Homo sapiens: one gene and its partners. The protein of the gene in region 3 interacts with the protein of the main gene of each other region in a pairwise test. Each region holds a gene or a part of one and is shown on either strand. Other genes may lie near its edges.

Region 1 (4,117 bases), on a different chromosome or scaffold from region 3:
CCCCTTGCTGTGTCTCCATTTCCCTTATGTAACACAGGGGTAGTAATAATGATAGTTTACACCTCCCAGGGTAAAGTACACCACTAAAGATGTTACCTGGCAGAAGACAAATTCTGTCGGTTTTGAACCTGTGACAGATTTTAATGTGAAAAATTAGGTGAACTGATATGTCTCCACATTTTTTTGTTTGTTTTTGTTTTCTTTGAAAGGGGGTCTCACCCTGTCACTAGGCTGGGTGCAGTGGTGTGATCATAGCTCACTGCAGCCTAGACCTCCTGGGCTCAAGCGATCCTTCCGCCAGTCCCGAGTAGCTGGGACTACAGGCATGTGCCGCCACACCTGGTTAATTTTTAAATTACTTTTTTTTTTTGAGACGGAGTCTTGCACTGTCGCTCAGGCTAGAGTGCAATGGTGCGATCTCGGTTCACTGCAACCTCTGCCTCCCGGGTTCAAATGATTCTCCTGCCTCAGCCTCCCGAGTAGCTCGGATTACAGGTGCCCACCACCACCCCCAGCTAATTTTTGTATTTTTAGTAGAGATGGGGTTTCACCATGTTGGCCAGGCTGGTCTCAAACTCCTGACCTCGTAATCGGCCGACTCCGCCTCCCAAAGTGCTAGGATTACAGGCGTGAGCCGCCGTGCCCGGCCCTTTAAATTACTTTTTAAAGACAGGGTGTTGTTATGTTGTCCAGGCTGGTCTCAAACTCCTGGCCTCAAGTGATTCTCCTTCCTCAGCCTCCCAAAGTGCTGGCATAATGGGCATGAGCCACCATACCCAGCCTGTCTCCATGTTTAAATGTTCACATGTCAGTGCCCAGAATGTCAGAGACGGGCCCTGGAGGTCCACATTACAAACAAAAACTGAGGTTCCAGGTCCAGAGTCATGAAGACAAGGACAACAAGGGTAAGTAGAGTGCACAGGGCCTGGCTCCCACTTCATTCTAATCCCAACTCTGCCCTTCACTTACTGTGTGACCTCAGGAAAGTTGCTTAACCTCTCAGTGACTCTTCTCATCCATAAGAGAAAGGTGTGATGGGTTCTACCTCAGATGATTTTAAGGAGTAGCTAAATTAATACTCAGAAAGAATATATAGTGCCTACCACGTGACAAACACTGCATAAATTTTTTTTTTTTTTTTTTTTGAGACGGAGTCTCGCTCTGTCGCCCAGGCTGGAGTGCGATCTCGGCTCACTGCAACCTCCACCTCCCGATTCAAACAATTCTCTGCCTCAGCCTCCCAAGTAGCTGGGATTACGGGTGCCCACCAACACGCCTGGCTAATTTTTTTTTGTATTTTTAGTAGAGACAGGGTTTCATCATCTTGGCCAGGCTGGTCTTGAACTCCTGACCTCGTGATCCACCCGCCTTGGTCTCCCAAAGTGCTGGGATTACAGGTGTGACCACTGCACCCGGCATAAATTCTAATTACTATAATTATTTTTATGGCTATTACTGTCATTAGATTGAACCTCACCTCCTTATATTATTTAACCCTCTGTGACGTATACAAATGTCAGATCATATTGGTCAAGGCACTGTCACCCCACACAACACAGCTGCCATCTCTCCTCTGCATTGAGGACTATGGGCTCTGCAGCCTGAGTGCCTAATTTCAAATCTGGGCTCATCGGCCTCTTCTATTCACACTGATTATGTTACTGACCATCAGTTGTCACATCTGCAAAATGGGAATAACATGGCCATCAGCCAGGATTATGGAATGGATTGGACAAACAAGCTGAGACCAAAGTGGGGCACAGAACATGAGCTCTACGGATAAACAGCCCAGATCCTGGCCCCATGGATCTAGCCTTCTGGGTGGCCCACGGGCCCCTCAGCATCCTACGCCTGTGACTCTGTCACTGTCCACTTGCCCAAGTCAGAAGGCTGGACTTCATCTGTGCGCCCCCTGCCTTGTCCTGAATCCCACGCCTTCCCCACCTCCCCCAAGCTTCCTTCCCATAGCCAGACATCATGCCCTCCAGCTTGGGGAAGTGCCAGCTTCTTCTTTCATCCCTTCACCTCCAGTCCTGTCCATGCCAATTCTTCCCAAAGGTGATGTGGATAGCACACTCATCTGACCGGCTCTAGCTCCTGCTATCGCTTCCCAGTTCCCTCATGAGGTAAAGACCTAAGAGGCTTTGCAATTACAGCTATGCTGGTCTCCCTTGCCGCCTGCCATCCCCCAAGATCCCGGCCACTGATCTCTAAAGTGCTATCACTTTCCTCAACAGAGAACAGACTCAGCCGTCACCTGCACCAGGCCGCTCTCCCTGACCCCCAAGGCTGGGTCAGCTGTCACAGCTGGGTCCCCTGTTTTCCCCCATCACTCTGGTTCTTGAAGCACCTTCCTATTACGTCGCAACCTGCGTGAGGGCAGCAACCGCGACTTCCTCGTCCATCATCGTACCCTCTACCCACGCTGACCGTGCCTCAATAAACGTTTATTGCATGAGGAACATCCGTGCGTCTGGGCCCTCACTCGTCCCACTTCCCGCCCGCACATCCCGGAGTGGACACATATACAGCTACCCCAAACTAGGCCTGAGGGAATTTGGCTTGGACGTAGAGCGCCCGTGGCAAGGGGACTGTAGGTGCAAGGGCAAGGCGGTCCGGCATCACGGGCCCGGCTCACCTCGCCCAGCGCCTGAAGGCTCTTCACGGCGCCCACCACCGCCTGGTGCTCCATGCCCAGCTCAGCCGCCAACTCGGCGCTGTCCAGGCCGCCATCAGACGCCTCCAGCCGCCGGAGCAGCAGTTCCGCCACCTGACCATCCGCCATGACTCCTTCCAGTGTGCTCAGCGTGTCCGGGCCCGGGTGGGCGGGGGGAGCTGAGCCACCGGAACCGGAACCGGAGTGTGTACCGCCATCTTGAATGTGTCTAACTGTAGAACAGGGCTCAATGTGTCGTCATCTTGAGTGTGGCGACGGAGCCGCAAAAGGTGCATGGGACTCAGTTCCCACCTCCACCCTGGCTCCATCAATGGCGTCTGGTTGACCAGAGGGGTAAAATTGATTATCTCAAGGTCAGAAGCACCGCCCTGTTTTGAGTTTTATCTAGCCTCACTTCGAGCGGGCTGTGTGACCTTGGACTTCCCCGTCTCTGGGTTACAGAACCCTCTGCCCTTCTGGTATTCTCTCTTGCCCTAGGAGAGGCGGTGGGTGGTGGGCTCCAGAGATGGTCATTTTGGCGATGTCAGCTACTTTTAAAATTTCAAAGGAAGGCTGGGTAGGTACCGTCCCTTTTTATAGAGGGAAAAGGAATTCACCTAGTAAGTCAAGGTGGCACCTAACCTGTGTGGACTACCTCGTATGTGGTAGTACTTAGCCCAGAACTGAGTACTTCACGTGTAGTATTTCATTTATCCCCAAAACTTTATGATGTAGATACTGATATAACCGCATTACACATGTGAGAAAACTGAGGCTCAGAGGGTGGTATGACTTGCCCAAGGTTCTACAGAGAGTTGGTGGAAATGAAGTCATAAATTATAAACCTTCCAGATCCTCCCACCCCTGTGCGCTGAGAGTAACGTCAGTGCAAATACTGCATGGCCTAGATTAGCACTGTCCTATAGAAACACAGTGCAAAACATCTTTCTTTTTTGAGACAGGGTCTTGCTCTGTCACCCATGCTGGAGTGCAGTGGTGCAATTATGGCTTACTGCAGCCTTGACTTCCCAGGCTCTAAGGATCCTCCAACCTTAGGCTCCTGAGTAGCTGGAACTGCAGGTGCGCGCCACCACACCCAGCTTTTTTTTTTTTTTTAAGTATGGGTTTTGGCCATGTTGCCCAGGCTGGTCTCAAACTCCTAGGCTCAGGTTATCCTCCTGCATCGGTCTCCCAAAATGCTGGCATTAGAGGCATGACCCACCTCGCCCAGCCAGCCAGACCCTGACTCTTACAAAAAAAAAGATGACTAATAAAATATTTTGCACTCGGCCGGGCACAGTGGCTCACCTCTGTAATCCCAGCACTTTGGGAGGCCGAGGCGGGTGGATCACCTGAGGTCGGGAGTTTGAGACCAGCCTGACCAACATGGAGAAACCCCGTCTCTACTAAAAATACAAAATTAGCAGGGCGTGGTGGCGCATGCCTGTAATCTCAGCTACT
Region 2 (3,013 bases), about 140 Mb from region 3:
CGGCTCACTGCCATCTCCAACTCCCGGGTTCAAGTGATTGTGATTCTCCTGCCTCAGCTTCCCAAGTAGCTGGGAAGCTGGGATTATAGGCACCCACCATCATGACCGGCTAATTTTGTATTTTTAGTAGAGACGGGGTTTCGCCATGTTGACCAGACTGGTCTTGAACGTCTGACCTCAGGTAATCTGCCCTCCTTGGCCTCCCAAAGTGCTGGGATTACAGGCGTGAGCCACCACACCCACAAATTTTTTGTAGAGGCAGCATTTTGCCATGTTTCTCAGGCTGGTCTCGAACTCCTGGGCTCAAGCAATCCACCCTCCTCAGCCTCCCAAAATGTTGGGATTACAGGTGTGAGCCACCGCACCCAGGCGAGAAACATTTTTATAGTTACGGTTTTATGTTTATGTCTACCTTCTATTTGTGGCAGGTAGTATTAGTTTTCATTTACAATTATGTTATAATGTTTTCTTTCAAATAAATGTAAGTTTTTAAAAGTGACTTAATTTAAAGAAAACTTCTTTATTAAGTAAATGGACAGTTGGTACACAGATATTGCAAAAATTTCGAGGCGGGTACATGAATGACTGAAATTCAGGAGACGCGGGGAGTTAGCACAGAAGCACTTTCCTCATTCAGAGCTCTTTTGGCTGCGAGAAACAGACACCCAATCAAATCAGCTTCAGCAAAATGAGAGAATGTATCCTGACAAGGGACGCTCACAGGGCCTAAAGGAAGAGTGCTGGGCCCCTGGAGGACTGAGGGAAGCCGGCAGGTCCCTGGAGGCGGTGCCCGGCTGCTCTCCAGGCGCCTGTGATTCCTCTGGTCCCTGCCTTGCTATGCGTATCTTCCCTCTGAGCAGAGCCATTTTCTCTACCACATTCATGCAGGTGCCCATCCCCCGCAACACACACAGACAAACACACACACATGGACACAGTCACAGCTCCAGGGTTTCTATGTGTTCAGGTAAGGGACCTGCAAAGCCTGAACAGCCTCCCTAAATCTAGATGCCCACCTCTCATCCTTTCAGCTCCCATCAGAGGATCAAGGGGCCCAAATTCGCAGAAAAGGGGAGGGTCTAAGATGAGCAGTCACCCTGCCAAGAGGTGTCTGCCTCAACATTAGTGGCGTATAACAATCCCATGAGGTAGCTTTAACCTCATAGGTAATGACCCTAAGAGGTAGGAAATTCAGTGCCTGGTCCCTCAGCAGGAAATGACACAGCCAAGACTTGAACCAGGCTTGTGTGATGCTGCACTAGCCACCGGGTCATCCCATCAGCCAAGTCCAGCCCACAGCTACCATCCCAGACTCCAGCAGGTTACAGGTCCATCGAGAGGCATTTCTCAAAATCAGCAATCCGGTGTTTGCCCGGTACACAGGAAATGAGTATCCCAGCTTCACAGGGACACTGACTGGAAGGAAGGAAGACTTCTCTGAAGGAGCACAGAGCTCTAGAAACCAGAGAAGTTTCCTCTGAGCCCCTTGGGTCTGAGGCTGCCAGGTTCACACTGCAGATACTTGTCTCAGGGCAGGAGAGGAGGCTCATTTGCATATACTTGCCAAAAATCACAAGCAGACATCTAGAGATCCCCAGGAGAAGCTGACACCTGGCTGACACCTGCTGACAGTAACTGCTCCTCCCACCTCCTGGAAGCTATGTTAGGAGGACCCTCCCAGAGGGCAAGGGAGGAGAGAACTGACAGACCCTTCTACCCAGGGGCCTCATGTACTTCCCAGCCCATGTGCCTGTTCGTATGGAAGCCCCTGGACATCGGGGTGTCCTGGCCTGGACAGCTCCAATTTTGCCTTTTTTGTTTGTTTGTTTGTTTTTGACACAGAGTCTCACTCTGTCGCCCAGGCTGGAGAGCAGTGGCGTGATCTCGGCTCACTGCAAGCTCCGCCTCCTCCCAGTAGCTACAGCCTATGGGACTACAGGCATGCGCCACCACGCCAGGCTAATTTTTTTGTATTTTTAGTAGAGACGGGGTTTTACCATATTGGTCAGGCTGGTCTCAAACTCCTAACTTCAAATGATCGGCCCACCTCAGCCTCCCAAAGTACTGGGATTACAGGCATGAGCCATATTTTTGTATTCTTAGTGGAGATGGCGTTTCACCACGTTGGCCAGGCTGGTCTCGAACTCCGGACCTCAGGTGATCTGCCTGCCTTGGCCTCCCAAAGTGCTGGGATTATAGGCATGAGCCACTGAGCCCAGCCCCAATTTTGCTTTCAAGGGGCCTTTGCCCACCCTCAGTGGGTGGCTGCCCCACAGAAGGTACTTAATTAGGGACTATTGTTGAGACAGAAAGAGGAGGTGGGCATCTCCTTCCCACTCCCCCAGAGCTGACTGGACTAGAGGCAAGGCCTTTGCAGACAGACACGTCTGTCTTGGGAAGCAAGCTCTTGTCCTAGCTTTTGGTCTGTTCATGTTTTATCTTCTTTGGTCACCATTAGGGACAGGTTGCCAGATGAGTCAGAGAAGGTTCCATCAAGCCCCTTCCCCTGAGAAAGGTCACAAAGACCTTGTGCCGGAGGGTGGAGAGAGGATGGCAACATCTTAGCTCAAAAGTCTGCCCCAAGGTAGTGCCATACAGTGAGGGCAGTGTCCTTTCCTAACCCAGTCTACCTCTATCACTTGAGAGTAGTTGCCCAAAGCTTTTTTTTTTTTTTTTTTTTTTTTTTTGAGATGGAATCTCGCTCTGTTGCCAGGCTAGAGTGCAATGGTGCAATCTAGGTTCACTGCAACCTCTGCCTCCCAGGTTCAAGCGATTCTCCTGCCTCAGCCTCCTGAGTAGCTGGGACTACAGGCGTGTGCCACCATGCCCGGCTAATTTTTGTATGTTTTAGTAGAGATGGGGTTTTACAATGTTGGCCAGGATGGTCTCGATCTCTTGACCCATGATCTGCCCACCTCGGCCTCCCAAAGTGCTGGGATTACAGGTGTGAGCCACTGCGCCCACTCCCCCAAAGCTTTAGACCGATGCCCCATCGGGGAGAACTAGGTGGTTT
Region 3 (3,500 bases):
TTTTAAAGGGGGATGGAATGAATTAATGAATGTTATTTTTAAAGGATTCTAGAAATTGTCTCTTTGTTTTGGTATCCCCTGAAATGTTTAAAAACTCAACCATTAACCCTCAGTATACCACTGGGTTCCACGGGTCCACTTTTAGTTTTTCAGTTCCTTTTCTGAGCAGTTCTCACTATTTGTATAAATTAGCATTTCATAATTTTTATCTTTTCTTAAGTCTTTCAAATAATGAGAAAATTTACTTATTTAAAAAAACAGAATAAAATAAATTATATTTTGCAATTACCAGAGAGGTCCAAAGAACCCTTTCATAAATCTAAGATATATTATAGGATTATTGCAGTATTTTTATATTTCCTGTATCTTGAAACATTTTGCCATTTCATCATCCTAGGAATTATTTCATCATTACTTATCAATTATTCCCTTTTGTAATAAAAAGAAATTAAAATAAGAAAATGATCTGAAAGGATGATGCAATAACTTATCATTGTTGAGCTTCTTTACTGTGCTGTACAAAGTATCATGTCACCTCCAGAAAGTATAAAAGAAGACTGAAAACACCATTTTTGTAACCTGTTTTTAGTTTTCATTTTCTGCCTATCCAGTATTTGCAAAGTGGAGACAACTGACAGAGGAAGACATCTTGCCACTGTTAAAGAAATCAAAAGATGAATGGTGTGGTAGGCTAAAAAATGGCCTCCCAAAGATATTCACTTTCTAATTCCTGGGACCTGTGAATATTACTTTCTATGACAAATGAGTGAAAATTATCTTATATGGAAAAAGATGTGATTAAGATAAAGGTTTTGAGGAGTTTATTCCAGATTATCCAGCTGGACCCTAAGTGTAATCACATGCATCTTTTTAAGAGAAAGGCAGAGGAAGTTTAGAGAGAGAAGAAAAAGCAACATAACTATGGAGGCACAGAATGGCATGGCGTGGCCACAAGCCAAGGGATGCCCACAGCCACCAGAAGCTGGAAGAGGCAAGAAATGGATACCTAGAGTCTCTGAAGAAATCACAAATCTGACACCTTGATTTTGGATATGTGGCCTCCAGAAATGAAAGAGAAGTAATTTCTGTTGTTTTAAGTCACCCAGTTTGGATTACTTCTTATGGTAGTCTTAGGAAACTAATACAAATGCAGAGACACATTCTAGAGTCTAGATGATAAAATCGATCATATGTGAAATCTCAGATGAGTCTTCAGCAAAACATATCCTAGGTGAATTTTCTCAAACTTAAGAATCAGTCAGTAAAAAATATATTTCTAAGCATAGAAAGGAAAAATGATTTTATCATAGAGTTAATCATTTCAGCAGGGAGAACATACACCCAATATTTTACAAGTATCTAGACTATCTTGTGTTGCTACAAGGATGTAACTATACTCTCTCAGCTTTTTATGTTTGTGAGTCAAACATTACTTGATACAAAGATGGTTACCATGCTTACATTCTTATTAAAATTTTAAAGTTGTTTTACACAATCCCTTTTAATCTTACTTTTAAAAATTACTCATAAAGTGATTTAAAAATATTCGTCTGTGGGTGTATGTTTGCATGTATGAGGGTGTCTATGAAACCTAGATGGTCAATAGTGATTTAAAAAAATGTTCTACATGCAGCCACTCTGGATTTTATAAACTGGTCTGCACAGCATATGGCAACATTGTAATCCCAGTGGTGAACAGTAGCAGTAGTAGCAGTAGCAGCAGTAGCAGCAGTAGCAGCAGTAGCAGCAGTAGCAGCAGCAGCAGCAGCAACTCTCTCAAATTGGCTCAAAGTGCTAGTCTTCTCAGAGGTGTCTATCCAAACACTGCTCTACAGAAGCCAATTTTAAAGCAAGTTCTGGCCTATTCACTATCCAAGAACCTTTTGTGGACATAGCACTGTACCAAATACTATAGAACTAAGATATCATTTTTATTAAAAAAAGAAAAAACAAGGAAATCTCCCATAAAAACTGACTGTCCTAGGGATTATCTTTCACTTCAAATCTGGACCATAATATTATTTTACCGATCTGTAATTTCTCAATAACCACAAATGCAAGTTTAGAAAATAATACCTTAATCTTACGCATGAACAAGACACACTACGGTTCTAGTCACCAAAGTCTTTGTTTCCCTTTGACTCAACGCAAGAGCTTCGGCTTTTGAAAATAGCAGCACATGGCCAGGCGTGGTGGCTCACACCTGTAATCCCAGAACTTTGGGAGGCTGAGGCAGGCGGATCACCTGAGGTCAAGAGTTGGAGACCAGCCTGGCCAACATGGTGAAACCCCATCTCTATTAAAAATACAAAAAATTAGCCAGGTGTGGTGGTGGGCACCTATAGTTGGGCTACTCAGGAGGCTGAGGCAGGAGGATCGCTTGAATCTGGGAGGCGGAGGTTGCAGTGAGCCAAAATCGCACCACTGCACTCCAGCCTGGGCAATAAGAGTGATACTCCGTCTCAAAAACCTAAAAATAAAAACAAAAATAGTGGCACACAACATCTACTTACATTCAACTACATCAATATTAGTACCATGAGAAACTGTCATCTGTAACTTACTAAAGATTTAAAAATTTACTAAAATTTCATTTAGGATACTTATAGACTATAGGATGTTTTTTCCTTTAGTAATCCCACCTTCTTTGTTGTGGTTCTTAGAAGGCTAAAACTATGACATTTCTTATATAATACTGAATATGAAAAAGCGTCTTTCTCCAGTTTCCACTAGGACAAAATTAAAATCAAATTACTTTTCTTTCTTTTTTTTTTTTGAGACGGAGTCTCGCTCTGTTGCCCAGGCTGGAGTGCAGTGGCGCAATCTTGGCTCACTGCAAGATCCGCCTCCCAGGTTCACGCCATTCTCCTGCTTCAGCCTCCTGAGTAGCTGGGACTATAGGCGCCCACCACCACGCCCAGCTAATTTTTTGTATTTTTAGTACAGATGAAGTTTCACCGTGTTAGCCAGGATGGTCTTGAACTCCTGACCTCGTGATCCACCTGCCTTGGCCTCCCAAAATGCTGAGATTACAGGCGTGAGCCACCGTGCCCGGCCTCAAATTTCAACTGAGGTACCTAGTACTTCTACCTTATAATATGAATTATTCATATAAAAGGCTACAAAGGCATAAAAATGTTCCTCTGGCAAACTTATGTTACAGAGAATAAAATGTGCTACAAATCAAGGCTTAGTTTAATCTTAAATAAAATCTCTGTTATCTCCCTTAATGACCTTATTAATGGAAACCTGGAACCTCTGGTTATCAGCTACTGATGGCATTCTTTTAAGTAGTTAATTAATAAAGACAACTCTAAGTCTAATAGCATATGGTCCAACAACAATTACAAAAGTCACAAGGACAACCACAAGACTCTTTCTTAAACACTCAACAGTTTATTAAAAACCACAATCAAGCATTTCCGCTTTAATAAATTGTTATATAAACATTCTGATGTTGTGGTTTACCCTGGCCTAATGAGGCATTCTGATTCATTTCT
Region 4 (3,500 bases), about 86 Mb from region 3:
ATGCCTTAAATATATAAAATATAAATAAGACAAAAGTACCATTCTCTACTAAAAGGGAGGCCTAACTAGGTCAAGGAAAGTAGAAGATGAGTCCAGATGATCTGGTGGAGCCAGAAAATAAAGAAATGCTCAATGAATAATAGGGATGTGTTAAAAGGACACAGGAGGCAGCTCCAAGGGGTCCCCATTGGCCAAATTGAGCACAATTTGAGCATTAAAATAAAAAACAATCGTGAGACTTCAACTTATTGAATACATAAGGAATCCATGAACAGTTCTTAGTAAAAACATAACAGAAAAATAAAGTTCTTCCTTATAGTAGTATGCCAACTAACAAATGTAGAAAGAGTGACGGTGATAAAGAATCATCACTTGAGGCTGGGTGCAGGGGCTCATGCCTGTAATCCCAGCACTTTGGGAGGCCAAGGCAGGTGGATCACTTGAGCTCAGGATTTCGAGACCAGCTTGGGCACCATGGTGAAACCAACTCCATCTCTACAAAAAATACAAAAAAAAAAAAATAAGCCAGGTGTGGTAGTGTGCACTTGTAGTTCCAGCAACTTGGGGGGCTGAGGCAGGAGGATCACTTGAGCCCAGGAGGTTGGGGCTGCAGTGAGCCAAGATCATGCCACTGCACTCCAGCATGGCAACAGAGTGAGACCTTGTCTTAAAAAAAAAAAAAAAGAATCACCATTTGGCAACATTCATAGAGGTGGCTGATTCAGGCAGACGTCATCAATAAATGGTAGTTTCTGTAGGTACAGGTTTAATGAGGAACAGGCTATTTGCATAACCCTAGAATAGTTCCCCACAAACACTAGTACAAAGGTGTTTTCAAACACCTTTGGGGAAACAAAGGGAAACGAAGGAAAAATGGCGAATTTAAGGTGAAGAAATCTGGCAAACACCAACATAACCAGGTGATTGAGGTCAATATCCCAGCAGTGGGATGGGTTGGCACCATGTGCCTTCTGTTGTAAGAAGCTAAGAAGAGCTGAGTTTCATTTCTGAAGGATTCCTGCCAAGAATGCATGACCTCAGTCAGGCTGTGAAGAAATACCCAATACAGCCAGGTTGGGAGTCATCCTACAGCATGTAGGACCTATACAACTGCAAACACTTTAGGAACAGGGAAAGTCTGAGGAACCGTTCCAGAAGAGACATGGTAACTAAATGTAACATGAATCCTAGATCAGACAGGTAGAAGAGACATTTGGGGGATAACTGACGAAATAGGAATGGGCTCTGTGGATTGGATGATAGTGTTTTGTATCAATGTCCATTTCCTGATTTGATGGGTGTACGCTGGTTATATAGGAGGACAGAGTGCTTGCTTTTTTTTTTATGCTGGAGTGTTTTCAAGAGTGATGGAGAATAATGTCTATGACTTCCTCTCAGAATAAAGACTGATGATGTATATTTTATATATATATATATACATACATACACACACACACACACACACACACACACAGAGAGAGGCAGAGACAGAGAGAAGGAGGGAGGGAGAGAGAGGGAGAGATTGAGATTTCAAACCTAATGCCATGGAGACATAGAAAAAGATTATACTACTTATTTTCTCTTCACCAGACCCATGTGATAGTTTTTGTCCAGAGAAAGGCCTTCCTTACCCCCATTCGACGAACTGACTTACTAAAAATCAAACAGGGCAGGAGGTAAATGATTCACTGATGTGCTCCCAATAAATTCTATACTTGATCCCTTGCTTTGGTTTTCTATAACTAGTCACTGCCAATGGCTTTGAGTCTTAACTCTGGCTTTCTACCTCCTTAGGGAGTGAATGCTGCTGATAGACTCCGCTGCCTATCTTTGAATTACATGGTCTGAGTCTGTCTGGGGGCAGCTCCAGAATTTCTACAGAGGATGTGCTTCGGGATAGCTTGGCTTAAAAGGGGAGACCAGGGGCTTGCCTTAAAGCTGCATTTATAAAGCAAATACACTGCTTTTATTTAGACCGCATGTTTGCTTGGAAGGCCTTTGGACCAAATAGTGCACTTATGGAGGGGCTAATGTGCCCTCCAACCCAGCCCTGCCACCTGCCAAGCCATCCCTTGATAACTGGTCAATCTGCACATGGGTGAGTCAAGGCCAGGGCTAGTAGAAGCTCCAGCTTAATGTCCCAGGGAACAATGTAGACACAGGACTAGCTGATGAGTAATTAGAGGGGTTGATGAACATCCTCAGGAAGGGGTGGGGCAGGCTGTGCTGGGCAGGTTGCTTTCCACAGTGACACCCAGTCTGGCCCAGCCTGAGGTGTACAAATGATTCACATCTGAAGAGGGGTGACAGAATCATGGGAGTAGGGCAGTATCAGGGGTCATGGGCAAGGGAGGAGTTCAAGGTTGTAGATACACAGGACAAGAGGCCAGCCAAGGAAGAGGAATAAAGAGGAGGACATAAGACTGGGGGTGATGAAGAGAGGGGTGGGTATAACCCAGGATGTCAGAACCTTCCCCTCAATGGTACTAAATCCCCTCCCCCACCCTCCAGCTGGCTTGCCAGGACAGGTAGAGAGCAACAAATATCTTTCAGACTGAATTAAGTAATTAGCTTAATTTGGGGGTGGGGGAGCAATGCCTTTGGTCAGTTTAGAACTTTGCAGAGTAAACTAGAGACCCAAGTCAGCAAGAAGGCACAGGGGAGTGAGGATGGTATAGGTGGACCCAATACATTGTCCAACATTGCCATCAGCACCCTCCTCCTGACCTGTGGGATGGGTGGTGGCCAGCTGTTTGTGTTTGTCCACTAAGAACTGAGATGCGCAGACAGTACAGGTAATTCCAACACGAAATTAAAGCTTCTTTGGAACTTTGCCCTATGCCTTCGATCATGTAGTGTTGGGTAACCTCAGTCCTGAAATTTAACTTCCTCTCATATTCCCCACAGAGCAGTTTCTCAACCTTTGATGCTATTTCCTCCTCGAAGTCCAGTATGATGTCAGAGGACGGGAGAGAGGAATATGGAAGAACTGCAGCAGTGCCCCCTTAGCACTCAAAACATGCTTGTGGAGATACTGCCAACCCCCAATAGCCAGAGCTGAGTGGGCCTGCCTGGGGTGGCCCACATCTGGATGTCCTGCCTCTTTAATTCCAATGTTTATGCACTCTTCACAGGGTACAAAGCTCTTTCACGTACATAAGTTAATGGAACTCATTAACAATCCATGTAGACAGGTAGAAAAGTAATTATTATCCCCACTATATAAATGAAAAAAACTTAAACATGACAATCTATTCAGGGTCACAAGAACTCACAAAAGTGGGACTAGGATTCAAAGACAGAACCCTGTGCTCCAAGTACCTCTAGTCCACCGTTTGTAAAAGCACAAAGTCTCTGCACTTATGCAGATAGCTCCCCAGCCCCATCACCACCTCTGCCATCCACAGCAGGACTGAGTTCCAGGTGACTCCTCCACAAATACAGAATCCAGGATGAGGAACAAAGGATCATCAAGGCCGGAAAGGGGGAGGCTCAGTACC
Region 5 (3,500 bases), on a different chromosome or scaffold from region 3:
GCAAGAAAAGAAGCTAACAAGCTCCCTCAGGCCTCTTATAAGGAGATAATCCCATTCACAGGGCTCTGCTCTCATGGCCCAGTCACCTCCCAAAGGCCCCACCTCTTAATAACGACACACTGCAGATTAGATTTCAAGATATGACTGGAGAGGGGAGGGGTTGGGGGGGACATTTAGACCACAGTGATGGTCGTCCATTAGGTCTAGTTGGGTTGTAACGCTGTTCAAATCCCCTAGTTCCTTAGTGATCTTCTGTCTAGATGTTCTATCCATTTTTCAAAGTGGAGTACTGAAGTCTCTATTACTATAGAGCTATTTCTCCCTTCCAATCTGTCTATGTCTGTTTCAGATAGTTTGGAGCTCTTTTTTTTGATGTGTATCTGCTTATAATTGCCATATCTTCTTGATGACTCTGCCCTTTTATAAATACATACTGTCCTTATTTGTCATCTATTTTGTCTAATATTGGTATAGTCACCCCAACTCTCTTTTGGTTATTCTCTGCATGGAATATTTTTCCACCTTTCACTTTAAACTTATTGTGTCTTTGAATCTAAAGCCTCTTGTGGCATATAGTTGGACCATGTTTTCTTACACATTCTGTCAATATTTGCCTTTTGACTGGAGACTTCACATGTAATTACTGAAAAGGAAGGACTTCTGCCATTTTATTTATTTTTGATAAATCTTTTACCTTTTTGTTCCTCAGTTCCTCTACTGCTGTATTCTTAGGTATTACCTTTTTTGTAGTGTACCATTTTAATTCTTGCCTTACTTCTTGTGTCCATTTTTTTTTTTTTGAGACAGTCTCGCTGTCACCCAGGCTGGAGTGCAGTGGCATGGTCTCAGCTTACTGCAACCTCTGCCTCCCAGGTTCAAGGGATTCTCCTGCCTCAGCCTCCCAAGTAGCTGGGACTACAGGCGGGTGCCATCGTGCCCGGCTAATTTTTTGTATTTTTAGTAGAGATGGGGTTTCACTGTGTTGGCCAGGATGGTCTCAATCTCCTGACCTCATGATCTGCCCACCTCAGCCCCCAAAGTGCTGGGATTACAGGCGTGAGCCACCGCGCCTGGCCTCTTGTGTCCATTTTTAAGATTTTTTTTTTTTTTTTTTTGAGAGGGAGTCTCGCTCTGTCTCCCAGGCTGGAGTGCAGTGGCGCGATCTTGGCTCATTGCAAGCTCCGTCTCCCGGGTTCACGCCATTCTCCTGCCTCAGCCTCCCAAGTAGCTGGGACTACAGGTGCCCACCACCTTGCCTGGCTAATTTTTTTGTATTTTTAGTAGAGACGGGGTTTCACTGTGTTAGCCGGGATGGTCTCAATCTCCTGACCTTGTGATCTGCCCGCCTCGGCCTCCCAAAGTGCTGGGATTACAGGCATGAGCCACCATGCCTGGCCCATTTTTAAGATTTTTTTTTGAAGTGGAGTTTTGCTCTGTCACCCAGGCTGGAATGCAGTGGCACAATCTCATGCCTCTGCCTGAGTTCAACCTCTGCCTCCTGGGTTCAAGCAATTCTCCTGCTTCAGCCTCCTGAGTAGCTGGGATTACAGGTGCCCACCACCATGCCCAGCTAATTTTTGTATTTTTAGTAGAGACAGGGTTTCACCATGTTGGCCAGGCTGGTCTCGAACTCCTGACCTCAGGTGATCTGCCTGCCTTGGCCTCCCAAAGTGCTGGGATTACAGGTGTGAGCCACTGCGTCAAGCCCATTTTTAAGATATTTTCTTACTGATTACCATGATGATTGCAATGAACGTTCTAACATCCTAAAACAACTGATACCAGTTTAGTCTCAGTAACACAAAATCTCTGCTTCTCTACAGATGTTACCCCCCTTATGTTGTTGTCATCACAGATTACACCTTTATACATAGTGGGGTAAAAAACATAGACTTATAATGCAGACCTTTTATGCATTTGTTCTTTAGATCACTTAGGAAATATGTAATGGCAAAAACCACAATTAATTTTGCACCAACTTAATACAAAGTGTACTTAGAAACCAAAATATAGGGATACTAACTTTTATACTTACCTATGTAGTTACTTTTACTGGAGGTCTTTATTTTTGTATGGCTTTGAGTCCCTGTCTAGTGTTCTTTCATTTCAACCTTCAGGACTCCCTTTAAAAGCATTCCTTGTGGGGCAGTCTATTTGTAACAAGCTTCCTCAGCTTTTATCTACCTGGATATGTTTTAATTTCTCCTTCATTTTGAAGAATAATTTTGCCAGATAACAGAATTCTTAGTTGACAGGTTTTTTTCCCCCTCTTAGCAGTTTAACTAAGCCGTCCCACTGCCTTCTGACCTCCATGGGTTCTGATGAAAAACTGGCTAGAAATCTTACCCAGAACCCCTTGTTCAGGGATAGGTCTCCTCTCTTGCTGCTTTCAAGATTCCTTGTATTTCAACAATTTGATTAGAAAGAGACCTGGTGTGGATCTCTTTAAATAGACTCTACTCAGTTTGTTGAACTGCTTGTGTGTGTAGACATGTCTTTCATCACATTGGGGATACTCTCAGCCATTATTTCTTCAAATATTTTTTCCATCCCCTTCTCTATTCTTTTCCTTCTTGAACATCCCTACTATGCACGTTGGTCTACTTGATGGTGTCTCATGGTCCATTAAGTTCACTTTTCTTTTTTCTTTTTTTTTTGAGACAGAGTCTCACTCCATTACCCAGGCTGGAGTACAGTGGCACGATTTCGGCTCAATGCAACCTCCGCCTCCTGGGTTCAAGCGATTCTCCTGCCTCAGCCTCCAGAGTAGCTGGGACTACAGGCATGCATCACCACGCCTAGCTGATTTTTGTAGTTTTAGTAGAGACAGGGTTTCACCACGTTGGCCAAGATTCTCTCGATCTCCTGACCTCAAGTGATCTGCTTGCCTCGGCCTCCCAAAGTGCTGGGATGACAGGCGTGAGCCACAACGCCCAGCCATTAAGTTCACTTTTCTTAGATCTTTTTTCTCCTCAGACTGAATGATTTCAATTATCCTATCTTCAAGTTGCCGATTTTTCTGCCTGCTCAAATCTACTGCTGAAACCCTCTAGCAAAATTTCCATTTCATTTTTTAGTTCCAGACTTTCTATGTTTCTTTTACAATTTGTATTTCTTATTGATATTTTCATTTTGTTCACACATCATTTTCCTGGTTCTTTTAGTTCTCTATGGTTTTTTTTTTTCTTTTTTTCTTTTTTTTTTTCTTGAGACGGAGTCTCACTCTGTCACCCACGCTGGAGTGCAGTGGTGTGATCTCAGCTCACTGCAAGCTCCGCCTCCTGGGTTCATGCCATTCTCTTGCCTCAGTCTTCAGAGTAGCTGGGACTACAGGTGCCTGCCACCATGCCCAGCTAATTTTTTGTATTTTTAGTTGAGATGGGGTTTCACCTTGTTAGCCAGGATGGTCTTGATCTCCTGACCTCGTGATCCACCTGCCTCAGCCTCCCAAAGTGCTGGGATGACAGGCATGAGCCACCGTGGTGCTGGGTTACAGGCGT
Region 6 (3,500 bases), on a different chromosome or scaffold from region 3:
TGACATCCTCATATCCCAAGGGATCGCCAAACTTTTCTCCATCCGTGATGACAACTAGGATCTTAAAGGCATTCTTTCGGGCTCCGTTGGTGATGTTAAACAGCTCTCGTCTGTGCAGGAAACAGGAGGGACAAAGTCAAATGCAAGTAGATGACACACTAGTTTTTTTTTTTTTTTAAGAAATAGACACTCACTCTGTTATCCAGGCTGGAGTGCAGAGACACAATCATAGCTCACTGCAGACTTGAACTCCTGGGCTCAAGTGATTCTCCTGCCTCAGCCTCCTGAGTACCTGGGACTACAGGCATGTACCACCACACTTGGTTTATTTTTTTATCTTTTTAGAGATAGAGTCTCACTATGTTGTCAATTGGTCTCAAACTCCTGGCCTCAAGTGATCCTCCCACCTCGGCCTCCTAAAGTGCTGACATTACTGGTATGAGACCCTGCACCTAGCCAGAGATGCTATTAACGTCAGAAAGGAAATGTCAGCAGAGTCCCAGACACAGATACAGCTAGGCGAGGTCTCGGAGGGGCTCCGTCTCCCCTGAGACTTAGCACTGAGATGCAACTGCCCCGAGACCTGGAAAAGCAGCAGGGAAGGGAAAGGAAGCCTTCACGGTTTTTGTTTTTATACTTTCGCATAATTTGGGTTTTTTAACTGAGTATTATTACTTTTGAATTTTAAAAATATATATATTTATGGCTGACACTTGTAATCCCAGCACTATGGGAAGCCAAGTCAGGTGAATCACCTGAGGTCAGGAGTTCAAGACCAGCCTGGTCAACATGGTGAAACCCTGTCTCTACTAAAAATACAAAAATTAGCTGATGGTGGTGATGGACGCATGTAATCCCAGCTACTCAGGAGGCTGAGGCAGGAGAATTGCTTGAACCCAGGAGGTGGAGGTTGCAGTGAGCCGAGATCAGGCCACTGCATTCCAGCCTGGGTGACAGAGTGAGACTCTGTCTCAAAAAAAAAAAAAAAAAAAAAAAAAAAAAAAAAAAAAATATATATATATATATATATATATATATATATATATATATAGTTAATTGGCCTTCAGGAAACCTCTCCCAGAGCACTGCACCAGCTCCCCAGCCCCTCTAGGACTCTCCAGTGCTTCTTGTACTTCTGTCCCAACCCCATCCTTGCCTCTACACCCACCTCAAAATCAGAGTGAACTTCCCAAAATGAGACATGGCGATATCTCACCACAGGCTGTAAAGCTGCCTTTGGCTCCCTGGCCTGAGCTGATCTTTGTAGCTTCCCTCCAGACACCTTTCCCTCACTTCCCCACTCCACTCCCACCTTTCACTCACAACTTGTCCTTTGATGAACACACCACGCACAGCCTCCCCACCTCTGCCGGTGGGGAAGCATCCTCTACCACCCCTGTCTGAACGGCTCCCTTCATCCATCAAAGCCCAGCTAAAAGTGTCTCCTCCTCCCTCCATCCTAAGGGAAAAGGGGAAGCTTACACCACTTTGCGGATGCCCGTGGCCGTGTGTGTCCGCCCAAGCAGCTGCGTTATTGGCTTCACCAGTGATCTTGGGTTAGGGTTGTTCTGGAACTCTTTGAAGGTAAAGTGAATCCGGAATTCTTCAGAGTACTGCATCAAAGAGAACTGCGGAGGGGGCGGCTGGTGTGATGCTGGAGAAGGTGCCCCCACCCCTCAGACATCTCCCAGCAAGCTCCACGAAGATCTTAAACACTCCACTCTCCAAATTCCTCCTCTGTGCTGCCCCTAATCCCCTGCCTCACCAGGACGGAGAGCTGCCAGCAGCTCCCATCTCTCCTCAATACTAGAACACGGCCAGCGGCCGGGAGCAGTGGCTCACACCTGTAATCCCAGCACTTTGGGAAGCCGAGGCGGGTGGATCACCTGAGGTCAGGAGTTTGAGACCAGCCTGGCCAAAATGGTGAAACCCCGTCTCTACTAAAAATACAAAAACTAGCCAGGCATGGTGGCATGCGCCTGTAATCCCCGCTACTCGGGAGGCTGAGGCAAGAGAATTGCTTGAACCCGGGAGGCGGAGGTTGCAGTGAGCCAAGATCACACCACTGCACTCCAGCCTGAGAGAAAGAGTGAGATTCTGTCTCAAAAAAATAAGAAATAAAAATGAAAATAGAACTCAGCCAGCAATGACACGTGGGCTTCATCTCCCATGCCAACCTTAACAATTAGAGCTGCCCGCTTTATAAAAGGCTGAAAGAATGCTGAGGCTGCATCCAACAGAGCAGAAAAGAGACTCAGGAAGGCAAACCATAATCGATCGTCAATTTGGCAATGTCTGCAGTTGAACTGGGAGGAGAACATGGTGGCCCGGTTGCCATGTATCTTCCAGCCCCGTGTGGGCTCTTCCCTAACCTACCCCTGGGCCCTCACCAAGGTTTTGGACTTTTTTAATTGCTCCATCACAGTTGAGACAAACTCCTTCATCCGCCGAAAGTCATGTGGGATGATGCTACCAGAGCCATCAATCAAGAAGGCAATGTCACTATCCTCTTGAGGACACCCTGGGGAAGGGGAAAAGAGTATGAATCAAGTAATTTGACACTTGGTGTTTTGGGTTTTTTTGCATGTCAGCCCTCTGCTGAACAATGAGAATATAGGACCCCGTCTCTATAAAAAATATAGATGTTAAATATATATATAAATTATGTATAATATATATATAATTTTTAACGTGTGTGTATATATATATATGTATACACACGTTAAAAACATATATATATATATATATATATATATATATATATATATATATATACACACACACACGTTAAAAATTAGTCAGGCATGTTGGCACATGCCTGTAGTCCCAGCTACTCAGGAGGCTGAGGGTGGGGGATCACTTCAGCCCAAAAGGTTGAGGCTTCAGTGAGCTATGATCACGCCATTGCACTCCAGCCTGGGCCACAGAGAAAGACCCTGTCTCTTAAAAATAAATAAATAAGTAAATAAACAAGGACAAAGTGGTATGGAAAATTTTCGTTAATTCTGCCCAAGGGAATCAGGGAATGTGGTGATGTTTGACTGAATCTTGAAGAACAGGAAATAATTTGCCCAGCTGGGCGAGGTGGCTCACACCTGTAATCCCAGCACTTTGGGAGGCTGAGGCAGGTGGATCACTTGAGATCAGGAGTTTGAGACCAGCCTGGCTGACATGGTGAAACCCTATCTCTATTAAAAATACAAAAAGTAGCTGAGATCGCACCACTGCACTCCAGCCTGGGTCACAGAGCAAGACTTCGAAGAAAAGGAAGAAAGGAAGAAAAAAAGGAAAGGAAAGGAAAGGAAAGGAAAGGAAAGGAAAGGAAAGGAAAGGAAAGCAAAGGAGGAAGGAAGGAAGGAAGGAAGGAAGGATTTGCCAGATATACAAAAGGAGTAGATTCTAGAAAAGGGAAGGGCACACACATATAAAGTGATGTGGAATGTGCTCCTCTGCCTTCTGCCCCATCCCCAAATCCACTTTCTACCCATTGCCGCTCAGCT
Region 7 (3,500 bases), on a different chromosome or scaffold from region 3:
GTAACTCTAATTACTAGAAACTATTAGTAATTCAATTGTTACTAAAATAATTTTATACCAAACTGCATGGCTGTTTCACATCTGCTCCTAACTGTGGAGACTCTCTAGATTCAGGATAAGGTATATAGGAACAAAGTCCAAACAGGGGGGGATGGAGGAGGGATAGCATTAAGAGATATACCTAATGCTAAATGACGAGTTAATGGGTGCAGCACACCAACAAGGCACATGTATACATATGTAACAAACCTGCACGTTGTGCACATGTACCCTAAAACTTAAAGTATAATAATAATAAAATTAAAAAAAAAAAAAAAAAAACAAAGTCCAAACAGGACACCAGTTAAAAAAGGAAGTAATAAGGCCCTACAAGATAGGTCCCTAAACACTCACTAAGATGGTGAATTTTCCACTGAGGATCTCAGAACGAAGAGGTTCCTCATGAGGTTTCAGCTTTACAATGCCTTCCTTCCTTCGAGTTTCCTAAAAAGGAAGCACAGCAAAATGTATTAATATGAAAATACTGTATATCCAGGACAGCACCATGTAACCACCAAATCTCAGAGATAAGGTGGTTATCAATGAATGAATGAATTATAAATTTCATAACTAAATAAATTTTGTAACTAATTTCATAACCAATTCTACTTCATTTAGTTGAATTAGAATTCAATTAAATGGGCCGGGCGCAGTGGCCCACGCCTGTAATCCCACCACTTTGAGAGGCCAAGGCGGGCAGGTCACCTGAGGTCAGGAGTTCGAGAGCAGCCTGGCCAACATGGTGAAACCTTGTCTCGGCTAAAAATACAAAAATTAGCCTGGCATGGTGGTGCGCGCCCATAATCCCAGCTACTCAGGAGGCTGAGGCAGGAGAATCGCTTGAACCCAGAAGGTGGAGGTTGCAGTAAGCCAAGACAGCACCACTGCACTCCAGCCTGGGTGACAAAATGAGACTCTGTCTCAAAAAAAAAAAAAAAAAAAAAAAAGAATTCAGCTAAATGAATAATGAAGTCAACTAAATGAATTATGAATTTCTTTGTAACCTGCCTCCAAGCCAGTCAAGCATTTTCGGAATTCCTGTCCAAAGCTACTTTATCAGCCCCTCAGGTAGGGTATTTTTCTCTGACTCAGTAAGAACCCTAACCCTGAAGAGTAACCAGTATGTTACATTCAGGTGCAGGATCAAGGTTCTTAAACACGCAGCAGCACTGACATGGTACCAGGACACTAAAATATGGACCTCAAAAATGTCTGGATGCCTACGTTCTCACATATTTTCTAGGTTTAGGCCTCTCCTATGTTTAAATAGGAGCCTTCTCTCCACCTGATATTGTCTCCAACAGCAGCTACCATGACTTCATTTTCCTCACCCTGATGGCCAGATTCTTTTTTTTTTTTTAATTGAGACCAAGTCTCACACTGTTGCTGAGGCTGGAGTGCAGTGGCATGATCTTGGCTCACTGCAACCTCCACGTCCAAGAGATTCTCTTGCCTCAGCCTCCTGAGTAGCTGGGATTACAGGCACGTGCCACCATGCCTGGCTAATTTTTGTGTTTTTAGTAGAGACGGGGTTTTGCCATGTTGCCCAGGCTGGTCTCCAACTCCTGGGCTGAAGCGATCCACCCGCCTCGGCCTCCCAAAGTGCTGGGATTACAGGCATGAGCCACCGCGCCCAGCCTCTTCAGTTCTCCTCTTAAATGACAAGGTTGACCACCTACACTTCCTTTTTCCGGAGACATTCTCTACCTTTATATACCGATAACAAAAAAATATTATCTTGGTTTGTCTTATTTCATCAACCGCTTGTTTTAAACCTCTTAGGCTGGGCACGGTGGCTCATGCCTGTAATCCCAGTACTTTGGGAGGCCGAGGTGCGTGGATCACTTGAGCTCAGGAGTTCGAGACCAGCCTGGGCAACATAGCAAAACCCCGTCTCTACTAAAAATACAAAAAATTAGCCAGGTATGGTGGTGCATGCCTGTGGTCCCAGCTACTCGGGAGGCTAAGGTGAGGTGGGAGGATCACTTGAGCTCAGGAGGCAGAGATCTGCAGTGAGCTGAGATCATGCCACTTCACTTCAGTCTGGGAGACACAGCAAGACTCTGTCTCAAAAAAAAAAGTGCTTCCACAGAATCCAGTGCTGCCTTATCATAACATTTCTACAACTCTTTGTTTATTTTCTCTTTCTTTTTTTTTTTTTTAAACAGTCTCACTCTGTTGCCCAGACTGGAATGCAATGGTGTGATCTCGGCTCACTGCAACCTCCACCTCCTTGGTTCAAGTGATTGTCCCTCCTCAGCCTCCCGAGTAGCTGGGAATACAGGTGCCACTACACCCAGCTAATTTTTGTAGTTTTAGTAGAGATGCGGTTTTGCCATTTTGTTCAGGCTGGTCTCAAACTCCTGACCTCAAGTGATCCACCTGCCTTGGCCTCCCAAAGTGCTGAGATTACAGGCATGAGCCACCGCACCCAGCCCTAGTCTCTCTTTCTAAATAGTAATCTCTGCACCTGGAACACAGTAAGTATAAAATAAGTATCTGTTGAGTAAATGAATGAATATTGAATGAGCTGGTCCACAAGACAGATGTAACCAAACTTCAGTTAAGCTAATCCTAGTGCTTGTTATCCCAATTTTTTTTTTTAGGGAGATTTTGTATTTCTTTAGAAGGATTCTGACCCCAAAGTAACATGCTGTATAGTGTTTTATCAAAGACACTACTAACTGAGAAAGCAAACAAGCACAAAACCAAAGTCTATGCCCCCTCAAAAAACAAAAATCAAAACAAAGTAAAATCCTGATGCCGCTACATTTGCATAAAGATACTTTAAGATAATGGACCTAGCTAATACACAGTTGCTCTTCTTTTCCAGTGTTAAAACTTCCCTTCCTGAACTGCCCACTAAGCTCATCATTCATCTGAATGGCAAGTTTCTAAAAGCCTTAGACAACCTGAAAACCAAGATTTTCATGTGGCCAGAGGCCAATGAAAAGAGCTAGGATTAAAACTCTAGGAAGGGTGAACCCCTATCCTGCCACCAGGATGCTGTCAGGCTACTTCCTCCGTCTCAATCATTAGATGTGGCATCCTGGTCTACGATCAAAACTTAGGTACAAAAGTAGTGCCTTCCAGTAGCTGCCTTGCCCAGCTTCAGCTCTCACAAGGGCTCCTGGATATGGATCCATTTTTTATGAAAGTGAGGAGGAACACTTAGAGAACCAATGTGTGTGTCGAGCATGACAGGGACAACAGCAACACTTAACCCAACTGCCACAGGTCTGGTCTACCCCTGAGCCACATACTCTGTAGGAGTGGAACAATTCTATGGCACGGAGCACATCAAACTTCCTTGCCATGAGGAACTTGACAGCCACATTCCAAGACAGCGGGGAAACATTGTACTGAACTGTCCACTTGTTAATCTCTTCGAGAAACTGCTTGGTAGCCTGTTTGACAAAGAAAGAAAGAATAATTAGTAAGAAGAGAGCATATTTATGGAG

What was found.
Region 1: the proteins of GORAB (region 3) and FARSA interact in a two-hybrid assay, tested with the Homo sapiens proteins (one large-scale study listed by BioGRID and IntAct).
Region 2: the proteins of GORAB (region 3) and PTAFR interact in a two-hybrid assay, tested with the Homo sapiens proteins (one large-scale study listed by BioGRID and IntAct).
Region 4: the proteins of GORAB (region 3) and LPAR3 interact in binary tests that used the Homo sapiens proteins (3 or more experiments, as listed by UniProt).
Region 5: the proteins of GORAB (region 3) and ZNF16 interact in a two-hybrid assay, tested with the Homo sapiens proteins (one large-scale study listed by BioGRID and IntAct).
Region 6: the proteins of GORAB (region 3) and ITGAM interact in binary tests that used the Homo sapiens proteins (3 or more experiments, as listed by UniProt).
Region 7: the proteins of GORAB (region 3) and PTPN9 interact in binary tests that used the Homo sapiens proteins (3 or more experiments, as listed by UniProt).

The regions. Positions count from the first base shown.
Region 1 is NC_000019.10:12,930,912-12,935,028, forward strand, and holds the start of FARSA (phenylalanine--tRNA ligase alpha subunit), read right to left. Parts: upstream 2,801-4,117; 5' UTR 2,786-2,800; coding exon 2,639-2,785; intron 2,386-2,638; exon of another isoform or gene 2,238-2,385; intron 2,127-2,237; exon of another isoform or gene 2,059-2,126; intron 1-2,058.
Region 2 is NC_000001.11:28,146,666-28,149,678, forward strand, and holds the end of PTAFR (platelet-activating factor receptor), read right to left. Parts: 3' UTR 501-3,013; downstream 1-500. UniProt on the Homo sapiens protein: Receptor for platelet activating factor, a chemotactic phospholipid mediator that possesses potent inflammatory, smooth-muscle contractile and hypotensive activity.
Region 3 is NC_000001.11:170,545,666-170,549,165, reverse strand, and holds part of GORAB (RAB6-interacting golgin), read right to left. Parts: exon of another isoform or gene 3,375-3,500; intron 1-3,374.
Region 4 is NC_000001.11:84,886,707-84,890,206, forward strand, and holds part of LPAR3 (lysophosphatidic acid receptor 3), read right to left. Parts: intron 1-3,500. UniProt on the Homo sapiens protein: Receptor for lysophosphatidic acid (LPA), a mediator of diverse cellular activities. May play a role in the development of ovarian cancer. Seems to be coupled to the G(i)/G(o) and G(q) families of heteromeric G proteins.
Region 5 is NC_000008.11:144,940,881-144,944,380, forward strand, and holds part of ZNF16 (zinc finger protein 16), read right to left. Parts: intron 1-3,500. UniProt on the Homo sapiens protein: Acts as a transcriptional activator. Promotes cell proliferation by facilitating the cell cycle phase transition from the S to G2/M phase.
Region 6 is NC_000016.10:31,269,975-31,273,474, reverse strand, and holds part of ITGAM (integrin alpha-M isoform 2 precursor), read right to left. Parts: intron 2,522-3,500; coding exon 2,391-2,521; intron 1,629-2,390; coding exon 1,483-1,628; intron 111-1,482; coding exon 1-110.
Region 7 is NC_000015.10:75,523,816-75,527,315, forward strand, and holds part of PTPN9 (tyrosine-protein phosphatase non-receptor type 9), read right to left. Parts: intron 3,447-3,500; coding exon 3,303-3,446; intron 484-3,302; coding exon 394-483; intron 1-393. UniProt on the Homo sapiens protein: Protein-tyrosine phosphatase that could participate in the transfer of hydrophobic ligands or in functions of the Golgi apparatus.